Homo sapiens: one gene and its partners. The gene in region 3 interacts genetically with the main gene of each other region. Each region holds a gene or a part of one and is shown on either strand. Other genes may lie near its edges. The genes, in order: ATM, TOP2A and MAP3K4.

What was found.
Region 1: changes in MAP3K4 (region 3) and ATM together harm fitness more than expected from each alone (negative genetic interaction), as found in Homo sapiens cells (one large-scale study listed by BioGRID).
Region 2: changes in MAP3K4 (region 3) and TOP2A are lethal when combined (synthetic lethality), as found in Homo sapiens cells (one large-scale study listed by BioGRID).

What each region holds. Positions count from the first base shown.
Region 1 is NC_000011.10:108,327,567-108,331,220, forward strand, and holds part of ATM (serine-protein kinase ATM), read left to right. Parts: intron 1-78; coding exon 79-192; intron 193-1,454; coding exon 1,455-1,672; intron 1,673-2,647; coding exon 2,648-2,855; intron 2,856-3,632; exon of another isoform or gene 3,633-3,654.
Region 2 is NC_000017.11:40,404,271-40,407,924, forward strand, and holds part of TOP2A (DNA topoisomerase 2-alpha), read right to left. Parts: intron 3,405-3,654; coding exon 3,279-3,404; intron 2,673-3,278; coding exon 2,562-2,672; intron 2,420-2,561; coding exon 2,314-2,419; intron 2,224-2,313; coding exon 2,114-2,223; intron 614-2,113; coding exon 521-613; intron 222-520; coding exon 107-221; intron 4-106; coding exon 1-3. UniProt on the Homo sapiens protein: Key decatenating enzyme that alters DNA topology by binding to two double-stranded DNA molecules, generating a double-stranded break in one of the strands, passing the intact strand through the broken strand, and religating the broken strand.
Region 3 is NC_000006.12:160,994,736-160,998,389, forward strand, and holds part of MAP3K4 (mitogen-activated protein kinase kinase kinase 4), read left to right. Parts: intron 1-3,654. UniProt on the Homo sapiens protein: Component of a protein kinase signal transduction cascade. Activates the CSBP2, P38 and JNK MAPK pathways, but not the ERK pathway. Specifically phosphorylates and activates MAP2K4 and MAP2K6.

The DNA of each region.
Region 1 (3,654 bases), on a different chromosome or scaffold from region 3:
TTTTCCCCGTACATGAAGGGCAGTTGGGTACAGTCATGGTAATGCATTATATTTTAAGATTTTGCCTTTCTTATACAGAACAATCCCAGCCTAAAACTTACATACACAGAATGTCTGAGGGTTTGTGGCAACTGGTTAGCAGAAACGTGCTTAGAAAATCCTGCGGTCATCATGCAGACCTATCTAGAAAAGGTAAGATTTTTGGAGCAACCCTTAAGATAGTTACTTAGCATGAATATGCTTCATCTTTTCATCAAGATCAATATATTTCCAAAGCAAATAAAAGTATGGTTTTATTTTTCTATATATTATTACTGTTGTAGCTCTGTATAGTCTCTAGGGTGGAGTGAAACATTGTTACAAAACAAAGCAGCCAATTTTGAAAGTAAGCCCAAGTATAGTATCTCTTCTTCCTCCTTCCTACCTCCACTACCAGCTACCCTTTCAGCAGGTTGCTTCTGATCATTTCTTCATTTATGCATCTACAAAAATAACTGATTAAGAATAGGCAAGTCAGCCCTTGCTCTTCATTAGCCCAGCCACCCACAAGTAAAGGCTTCAATATACTAGCCCCTTTGACTTTCCTGTTTCTCCCTCTTATTCCTTTAGATTCACTAATTTTGGAAATAGTTACCTCACTAAATAAGTGTAACATGAAACACATGATGCGATTGTCTTTCTTTTCTTTTCTTTTCTTTGAGATGAAGTCTCTCTCTGTCGCCCAAGCTGGAGTGCAGTGGCGCAATCTCGGCTCACTGCAACCTCTGCCTCCTGGGTTCAAGCGATTCTCCTGCCTCAGCTTCCCAAGTAGCTGGGACTACAGGAGTGTGCCACCACACCCGGCTAATATTTTTTATTTTTAGTAGAGACGGTTTCGCCACATTGGCCAGTCTGGTCTCGAACTCCTGACCTCAAGTGATCCACCTGCCTCGGCCTCCCAAAGTGCTGGCATTACAGGCTTGAGCCACCACACCCAGCCTGATTGTCTTTAAATTTTATAAAGTTCTCTGTTTTTGCAGAGTTCTTTACAAGTATTAGCTGTCTGGGTTATTTCTACACTGTCAAAGTTGTTTTGAAAAGTCAAGAAAATACCATAGTTCAGGGCTGTCCAATCTTTTGGCTTCCCTGGGCCACATTGCAAGAAGAATTGCCTTGGGCCACACATAAAATATACTAACATTAATGATAGCTAATGAGCTTAAAAAAAATCACAAAAGAAATCTCATAATGTTTTAAGAAAATGTACGAATTTGTGTTGGGCCACATTCAAAGCCGTCCTGGGCCACATGCGGCCCATGGGCCGTGGGTTGGACAAGTTTGCAATAGTTCATATAATTTAGCTAGCTTTTATATGTATATAAGTTAAATTTTAGTGTATTACCTTAATTTGAGTGATTCTTTAGATGTATTTAGTATTTGTAAATATAATTTAAATTGGTTGTGTTTTCTTGAAGGCAGTAGAAGTTGCTGGAAATTATGATGGAGAAAGTAGTGATGAGCTAAGAAATGGAAAAATGAAGGCATTTCTCTCATTAGCCCGGTTTTCAGATACTCAATACCAAAGAATTGAAAACTACATGAAATCATCGGAATTTGAAAACAAGCAAGCTCTCCTGAAAAGAGCCAAAGAGGAAGTAGGTCTCCTTAGGGAACATAAAATTCAGACAAACAGGTAACTAGGTTTCTACAAGTGACAATTTTATGTTCACCAGTTAACTGAGTGAGTGTTTTTGCATAGAAAGAGTGACTTGGTCTTTTTATCTGATATAGTTTTGAGCTCTAAAGGTCGGCTTAACTATATATAGATTATCTTGGTCTTTTGGGTTCTTTTCGGTTTTTGTTTTTTGTTTTTTTTTTTGAGACAAGGTCTCACTCTGTCACCCAGGCTGGAGTACAGTGGCGTGATCACTGTACTCCAGCTCACTGCAACCTCGACCTCCTGGACTCAATTGATTCTCCCCCTGAGCCCCCGAAATAGCTGGGGCTACAGGTGCACGCCATACCTGGCTAATTTTTGTATTTTTTGTAGAGATGGGGTTTTGCCATGTTGCCCAGGTTGGTCTCAAACTCATGGGCTCAAACGATCTGCCCACCTTGGCCGCCCAAAGTGCTGGGATTACAGGTGTGAGGCACTGTGCCCTGTCTGTCTTGGTCCTACTGTAGTTAATCACAAATTAGTATGTAAGATATTGACGTGTTCTTTTGTGAATAATTCATGCTCTGCTTCTAAGTTCATTGTGGAGAATATAGATATTAGCTTTCTGTTTTGCTTTTTTGGTTTGTTTGTTGGTATCATAGTGGAAAAGGAGATAGATATTGAAATTAATTACAAAAGTTACCTATTTTGATGTAATTAAATCCCTTTATTTAAGCCTGTCTTGAATCTGTATATTTTAGTGTAAGCAGAGGTGTAAGTTAGCTAAATAGCTTGGGGAGAGTCCCCTTTGTCCTTTGATGCTTAGGAAGGTGTGTGAATTGCACAGTTAAGACAAAAGTAAGTTTATTCCCTTTATAATCCTTAGAAGTTTGCTTTTTTCCCTGGGATAAAAACCCAACTTTTTTCATTAAATGTTGTATATCATGTGTGATTTTGTAGTTCTGTTAAAGTTCATGGCTTTTGTGTTTTACCTTAATTATTCTATGCAAGATACACAGTAAAGGTTCAGCGAGAGCTGGAGTTGGATGAATTAGCCCTGCGTGCACTGAAAGAGGATCGTAAACGCTTCTTATGTAAAGCAGTTGAAAATTATATCAACTGCTTATTAAGTGGAGAAGAACATGATATGTGGGTATTCCGACTTTGTTCCCTCTGGCTTGAAAATTCTGGAGTTTCTGAAGTCAATGGCATGATGAAGGCAAGTGTTACTCAGCCCAATATTCTACCCTGTGCTTGAAAAACTTAGACATAAGCCCCTTGATGTCAGGAATCGTGTATACCTCTTTGTATTCCTAGCACTTGGTCCAGTGCTCTACACATAAGTAGCATTTTGTAGTTTTCTAAACTTTGATCCATATTTAGGATTATTTACAAGTTCTAGTCTTGTTTCTACAAAAGTTCCTTTGTATTATATAAGCTGACAAGCTGTAAATGATGCAAGTTTGTGTGGAGGTGATAGAATTTAGCTTGGTCCTATGTCTTTGCAGTTACCATAGGAGAGGGTCTAGAATGGGGCATTAGATTGGAGGATTTAGAAAGCAGTTAAAGATGATGTGATCACAGGTGGGTTTTCCCCCTGCTGCAGAAATATGGGATTTTTACAATAAATTACTTTTGTAAGTAGAGAAAATATATTTTTCAGAAAATGTCAAGACAGCAGTATTGTATAAGTTTTTCTTTGAAAACCTTAGATTATAGTGATGACACCTAATATTAAATTTAAGTTGACAAGCTATATATTGTTAGTCAATTTGAAGGTTAGAGATAAAATGTTTCTCCTGCAGGAAAATAATAAGACTCATAATAGATACAGTCAATCTCTGCTGTAGTATACACTAAATATTACTTTTGGCCTATGGGGAAAAGCAATTACTTCATTTTATTGTACACTGACTTCTCAGGAATCAAGATCACAGTCACACTCAGATCACATTTGTCTTCCTTAGATTTTTTGGAATATAAACAGTACCAAGTATTCTAGTTCTGAATCCAGTTTA
Region 2 (3,654 bases), on a different chromosome or scaffold from region 3:
AACCTTTAAAATGAAATAAGAGCAAACGTAAGTATCCTCAATTTAACCAATTTTGGAATTTGATTTCCATCTTACAATGAAAACAGACTAACAAATTGGAACTCACCATCCACCATAGAAGGGATAGATCTCTCGTTATCAGAATTTGAGAACAAGATAAGTTCCTTGTTGATGAAGTCATTATATGTCAGATATGTGGTAGTTTGTCCATACAAGTAATCCTGAAGGACCAAATAGTATTACATGAGTCTACCGGTCTAAACAATGCTCAACACAAAAATCAAACAGAAACCTTTCAGAACTAAGAATTATTTCTGTAATTCTTAAGTCTTTAAAAAATATTGAATAATACAGAAATATTTTATATGTTTTAAAGATAAAGCAAATTTAACTGCTGCACAACTCTATCATATCAAATTTTTTACTAAAATAACTATTCAGTAAGTTTAATTTGCTATAGTATCAATACCAAAAGGTCAGTCTAACAATCCATTTTGTGGCATATATTTAAAACTTTTACCTCAGGAAGCCCAAGTAACTTTCGTTGTCTTCTATCCTCCATGAAATTAGTTAACCATTCCTTTCGATCATCTATCTGTTTTTTGCTAAAGGCCTATAAATTAAAGGATGAAAAGATGTCACTGGTACTAATAGGCTAATAGGTTCCAAAATATCCTTCTACAAAGAACGAACAACAGAAAAACAAAAATACTGTTTTCCTTTTTTTTTTTTTTTGAGACGGGAGTTACTGTTCTCTTGCCCAGCCTGGAGTGCAATGGTGTCATCTTGGCTCACTGCAACCTCTGCGTCCTAGGTTCAAGCGATTCTCCTGCCTCAGCCTCCTGAGCCCCTGGGATTAAAGGCGCCCGCCACCACGCCCAGCTAATTTTTGTATTTTTTTTTTTTTGAAATGGAGTTTCACTCTTGTGGAATGTGATGGCACGATTTCGGCTCCCACAACCTCCACTTCCCAAGTTCAAGTGATTCTCCTGCCTCAGCCTCCCGTGTAGCTGGGATTACAGGCACGTGCCACCACACCCAGCTAATATTTTGTATTTTTAGTAGAGATGGGGTTTCACCATGTTGGTCAGGCTGGTCTTGAACTCCCGAGCTCAGGTGATCCACCCGCCTCGGCCTCCCAAAGTGCTATGATTACTGGTGTGAGCCACTGCGCCCGACCTTTTTTGTTTTTTTTTTTTTTTGAGACAGAGTCTCGCTCTGTCGCCCAGGCTGGAGTGCAGTGGCACCATCTCAGCTCACTGCAAGCTCCGCCTCCTGGGTTCACGCCATTCTCCTGCCTCAGCCTCCGGAGTAGCTGGGATTACAGGCGCGTGTCACCAAGCCCGGCTAATTTTTTATTTTTTATTTTTTTTTATTTTTAGTAGAGACGGGGTTTCACCGTGTTAGCCAGGATGGTCTCCATCTCATGACGTTGTGATCTGCCCGACTTAGCCTTCCAAAGTACTGGCATTACAGGCGTGAGCCACCACGCCTGGCCTTTTTCCTTTTTTTTTGAGATGGAGTCTCACTCTGTTGCCCAGGCTGGAGAGCAGTGGCCTGATCTCGGCTCACTGCAACCTCTGCCTCTCGGGTTCAAGCGATTCTCCTGCCTCAGCTTCCCAAGTAGCTGGGACTATAGCTGCGTGCCACCACGGCCGGCTAATTTTTTGTATTTTTAGCAGAGATGGGGTTTCACCTTGTTAGCCAGGATGGTCTTGATCTCCTGACCTTGTGATCTGCTCGCCTCTGCCTCCCAAAGTGCTGGGATTACAGGCGTGAGCCACTACGCTCGGCCAATTTTCGTATTTTTAGTAGAGAGGGGGTTTCACCATGTTGGACAGGTTGGTCTCCAACTCTTGATCTCAGGTGATCCACCTGCCTTGGCCTCCCAAAGTCCTAGAATTATAGGCATGAGCCACCAAGCCCAGCCAAAAATCAAAATTTTCTAAAATATCTGATTCCTTCTCTGGGATATGCTTACTGGAAACATTCTATTCTATAAAACATTCTTTTTTTTTTGATACGGAGTCTTATACAAAAATGTAAATGTTTCAACTGGCTAAAGTAGTGATTTCTAAAATTAGAATGTATATAAAATACAACTCAAACCTACCAGGCTGATAGCAGCATCATCTTCAGGACCAGAATATTTGAACTGGATACGATGTCTTTTCATATCTGCAAAGTATTCTTTAGCTTCCTTTGATGTGCTGGTGCCCAAACCTATAAAACCAAAAATACCAAGTTCCTTCATATAGTCTTGTACAGGGTGTATAATAAAATGAGAAGTTCTATATGGGTTTCATTACAAACCTTTGTAATATTTGACTTTCCATTTTTTATGATTTGGAGTAGAACTCTTCCACTCTTCAAATTCAGGAAGGCTGTAAAATGCCATTTCTTGCTTGTTTTTAGATACCTGTGATAAAAAACAATGACTGTGGCTTTGTACACTGTGGGGTCCCCTGTATACCACTACATGTGACGGGGCTTATATGTATATCCAGGTTTGAGGAGTAGGGTCTTAAAATATCCATGATGGTACTTAGAAATTAGCGTACCTTTACAATGGGAGTGATAAATTCCTCCAGAAAACGATGTCGCAGAAGAGAGGGCCAGTTGTGATGGATAAAATTAATCAGCAAGCCTTTGATGTGGGAACCATCTTGGTCCTAGAAAGATTTGAAAGCCAAAGTTCAAAAGAACTGTTAGGCTGGGCGTGGTAGCTAACATCTGTAATCCCAGAACTTTGGGAGGCCGAGGCAGGCGGATCGCCTGAGGTCAGGCGTTCGAGACCAGCCTGGCCAACATGGTGAAACCCTGTCTCCACTAAAAATACAAAAATTAGTTGGGTGTGGTGGCATCCGCCTGCAATCCCAGCTACTCGGGAGGCTGAGGCAGGAGAATCGCTTGAACCCATGAGGCGGAGGTTGCAGTGAGCCAAGATTGCACCATTGCACTCCAGCCTGGGCGACAAGGGCGAAACTCCATCTCAAACAAACAAAGAATTGTTTAGAAATAAAAAAATATTATGACTGACCTACTGGCAATTTGTCAAATTTTCTATGGGAATCAAAAAAGGTCTGTTCAAATCCAGACTCACTTAACCTGTATTTGCAACATACATATGATATAAGCATATCTGATTAGATGTTGATTAGAGATGATGAATAAAGCTCCTATTTAACTAATTTATTTTCATGGCAAAAAACAATGAAATTAAATTAAGACATGCTTAATTTAGTTGAACAATCTAAAAATTTAATAACAAATCTGACCTGATCTGTCATAATCATTATCTTCCCATAACGAAGCGTCTTCAATGAATCTTCATCTTCATAGTTTTTCTTGTACTGAAGACCCACAATCTTGATGATATTGTTAATCTCAGCATTTTCCATGATCTGAAATGGACATATACCAAAAAAAGCATCGTTTATAAATTTGAAAAGAACAAAGAAATTTAACAGTATATGTTGCTTGGATTTTCTTGAGCTCCAGTATTTTGAGCTATTAGCTTATAATTTACTACATCAGAAAGGTCTGTTAAAATAGGCTACAATGTACCTAATTTCTCAAAATAAGCACAAATTGTCTAAAATATATTTTAAAATGCCTAATGAGGGAATTAAATATAAGCATAAAGTCTTGTAT
Region 3 (3,654 bases):
TGTTGCCCAGGCTGGAGTGCAGTGGCGTGATCTCAGCTCGCTGCAACCTCTGCCTCCCGAGTTCGAGCAATTCTCCTGCCTCAGCCTCCCGGGTAGCTGGGATTATAGGTGCCTGCCACCAGGTCCAGCTCATTTTTGTATTTTTAGTAGAGACAAGGTTTCACCAAGTTGGTCAGGCTTGTCTTGAACTCCTGACCTCGTGATCCGCCCATCTTGGCCTCCCAAAGTGTTGGGATTACAGGCGTGAGCCACTGCGCCTGGCCAGTTTTTTAAGGAATCTCCATATTGTTTTCCACAGTAGTTGTACTAGTTTACATTCCCACCAGCAGTGTATAAGAGTTCCCTTCTCACCACATCCATGCCATTGTCTATTTTTTTAATTATTATTTTTAAATTATGGCCATTCTTGCAGGAGTAAGGTGGTATCTCATTGTGGTTTTAATTTGCATTTCCCTGATAATTAGTGATGTTGAGCATTTTTTCTTATGTTTGTTGAAAATGTGTGAAATGCCACCTTTTAATACATTGGAAACCAATAATGTGATAATTTATGCTACCAGGTTAACTGGTTTTGCCACAGACTAGAATAAAACTCTGTTTGCCATCTTTGTCACATACTTTATGTCTGTGTGTCATTGATTAGGAAGGTTGTGTTAATGCACAGGCCTTTTGTAGAATTCAGGCCTGTACATGTTGGCCTCCAAAGCTGTGCAGCAAGTGTGCCATCGTGGCAGGTGCAGCCAGCCCAGCACATCTGCCTAGTGTGTGCTTTCCTCCTGACCCAAGAGTGTTATGCAGTGACCCAGCAACACAAAACAGGCAGAGAGGTCATAGTACTCTATTCCAGTTTTATTGCTTGCTGTCAGTTGTGGATACTTTTGTCCTTATTTTTGATAAAGAATTCATGATAAGGATAGCTGTTGTTATTGTTAGTGATTAAATTTTGAAATAAACATTGCTTATCATTTCTTTTTCAAGCTTCTGGGGCAGTTTTAGGAGGATCCTGAGGTGACTAGGAGAGCTATTAAAACTAATTTGGAACAATTTACCTTTGTGACTTATTGGATCTGTACACCTAAAACACAGAATAAATTGGATATTAAGGCTGATATAATGCTCTTGTTTACTATAACCTTTCATTTAAAATATTTATATTAAAAATAGCCTCATTGTTCTCATTGTCCTTATGAGTACATGCTGCATAAATTTAACAATTAACTTTTTTTAAAAAATGAATTATTTACTTTATATATTTATTGTAAATTCATTTGAAAAACTGGATTTCCTACTAAAAAACTAGTTGAATGTCGTCACTCCTAGGCAATTTGCTCTGCCTCTCGGCTTGAATGTCCACCTTGAGCCTGTGTGTTTCAGTCTTGACCTTGTATGTCAACTGTTCTCCCTGGCAAAGTCAGCCTCCTGTGGTGCTCCAGACTGTTGGTGTAGCATCAGTGATGGTCATGCCTTTACACCACTGTAACAGTAGATGCCATTGGCGGGGGTGGCGTTAGGCAGAGAGGAGTCACCAAACAGCAGTGATGGCAGAAACTTCATGTTTTCAACTGGGGACTTGTCACTTAGGAGGACTTTGTAGTTCCCTTTAATTTTCTGTCATTGTTAGAGGCCACTCTGTTTCCTTCATGTATGCTCTCATGGTGTCCTGCAAATCTTGTTCTGAGCTCTGCTGAAATACGGGGATATAAAGGTCTTGCCTGCTCACTGGATACATTTGTTGTAATAACTTCCTGTTATTTAATAATTCCTCATTCCTCATGACTATGATTTTACTCATAGCATTCTATTGTCTCAGCCTTGTCATTTGACCAGGTAGTATGTATGCTGTTTGAAGACTCTTTAACGTTGCCTATCAGTAGGCTACTGGTAGTGGTTTCTTTAAAGAGAAAATGGAAAACGTGAGAGAAGGAGATTAGCTGAAGACTCCGTAGGTCTTCATAAGCTGGCACTCCCTTGGCACGATAATCAAGGCCCAGACACTCACTGTGCTTGGCTTCTCAGGCACAGATACTCAGCTTTGTCTGTACACCTGGTTAGTCAGTGTATTCTCTTGCTTGTAGAAAGCCAAAGTATAATTAAGAGATTGATTAGTAAGCATGATATTAGCAAGGGAAATGAGTTGAATGATCCCGGTGACTCATGTTAGCAGACCAGTGAGGTGGGCTTGCATCCCTAGCAGGTGCACCCCTGCTTCTGAATGAGAGGCAGTGTGATCCAGACTTACTCTTAGGTTTTTATTTTCTAGGCATCACACAGGCTGCTTTTTTCCCTTGTGTCACAAACTTTCCTAAATTGTTTGGGTTATAGTATGTTTGTTTTAATCTTCAGTCTTTATAACAAACCTTGCTTTTCCTGCTTTAATTTGGGAGTATATTTTATCCTTCTCACTTTAAGATTTCTTTTTTTAAACCTCAGTGGTACGGTACATTTTTACTAATGGTGAGTCTCAGAGGATCACCTTATTGTCTCCATCCCCCACCCAGTATTCTCCCCATAATCTCTGTCCCACCACCCCTCGCCAAGAATCCTTTAGCATAGTTTCTCAGAACAATGTGGCAAAGATGTCAGTGGTTGGTGCTTTCATAAAATTCTTTTTGAATATTGTGTTCAAAAAGGATCATGATGGTATCTGGCTTTTCTGGATTTAAGTCATAAAATTAAATTTTAAAAAATCAGAACCACATCAGAATTCTATCCAGTTATTAAAAACTGTTTTTAAATAGTGTTTAGTGACATGTGAAGATGCTCATGATACAACTCCTTTTGGGGTGGTACCTGAGTAGCTCTTCTTAAGAAGATTCTCAAGTATTTCTGATGTATACATACTCACCGCTGTGTTCAGCAAGAACAAACAGACTATGAAACAGAATTTGCAGAAGATGGGAGCCAAAATTTGAGGTAGTTTTTCATCTCATACACATATTTGTCCACCGGCTGTGTCTGCCCTACTTCACTGTCTTCCTTCTACCTTATTTGGGGGAATTCCTCTCTTGACTCAAACTACATGGTACATATTGGAGCTGCCCTCTTCTTACAGATGCCAGGCCATAGGCATGACACTTGACCCAGTCCAGGCCAATTAGGATTCTTTCCTGGGATTTTTCAAATTGGAGCTGGGAGAGAGAAACGCGCATTTTACTGAAGTATAGGCTGAGAATTCATGAGCCTAGAGCTAGCTTCCTGAAGCTCCTACAGAGGACCTGGTCTCAGAGAGTGATGTTAATCCCCAGAGAAAAGCAGAGAGGCTGAAAGAGGTCTATGGCCAGTTGCCTTTAAAATAAATAAATAAATAAAAATAAATAAAGAGATGGCAGTCTCTGTATGTTACCCAGGCTGGATTCAAACTTCTGGTCTCAAAGAATTCTTTTGCCTTGGCCTCCCAAGTAGGTGGTACTACAGGTGCGCACCACCACACTGTCAGCCAGTTGCCCTTTTGTGCTAGATTTGTCCCTATTTTTCTCCTGATTTGATGTGAGCTAATCTCTATTTGTGCTTAAACTATTAATTTGAGTTAAACTTCTTAAAACCCTAATACTCAGTGTGATCGCATTTTAAAAAGTATGTGCATAGAAAAAAGATATAAAAAATACATACTAATTTTTCCTAAAACTTTTTATGATGAACGTGTTACACATTTTA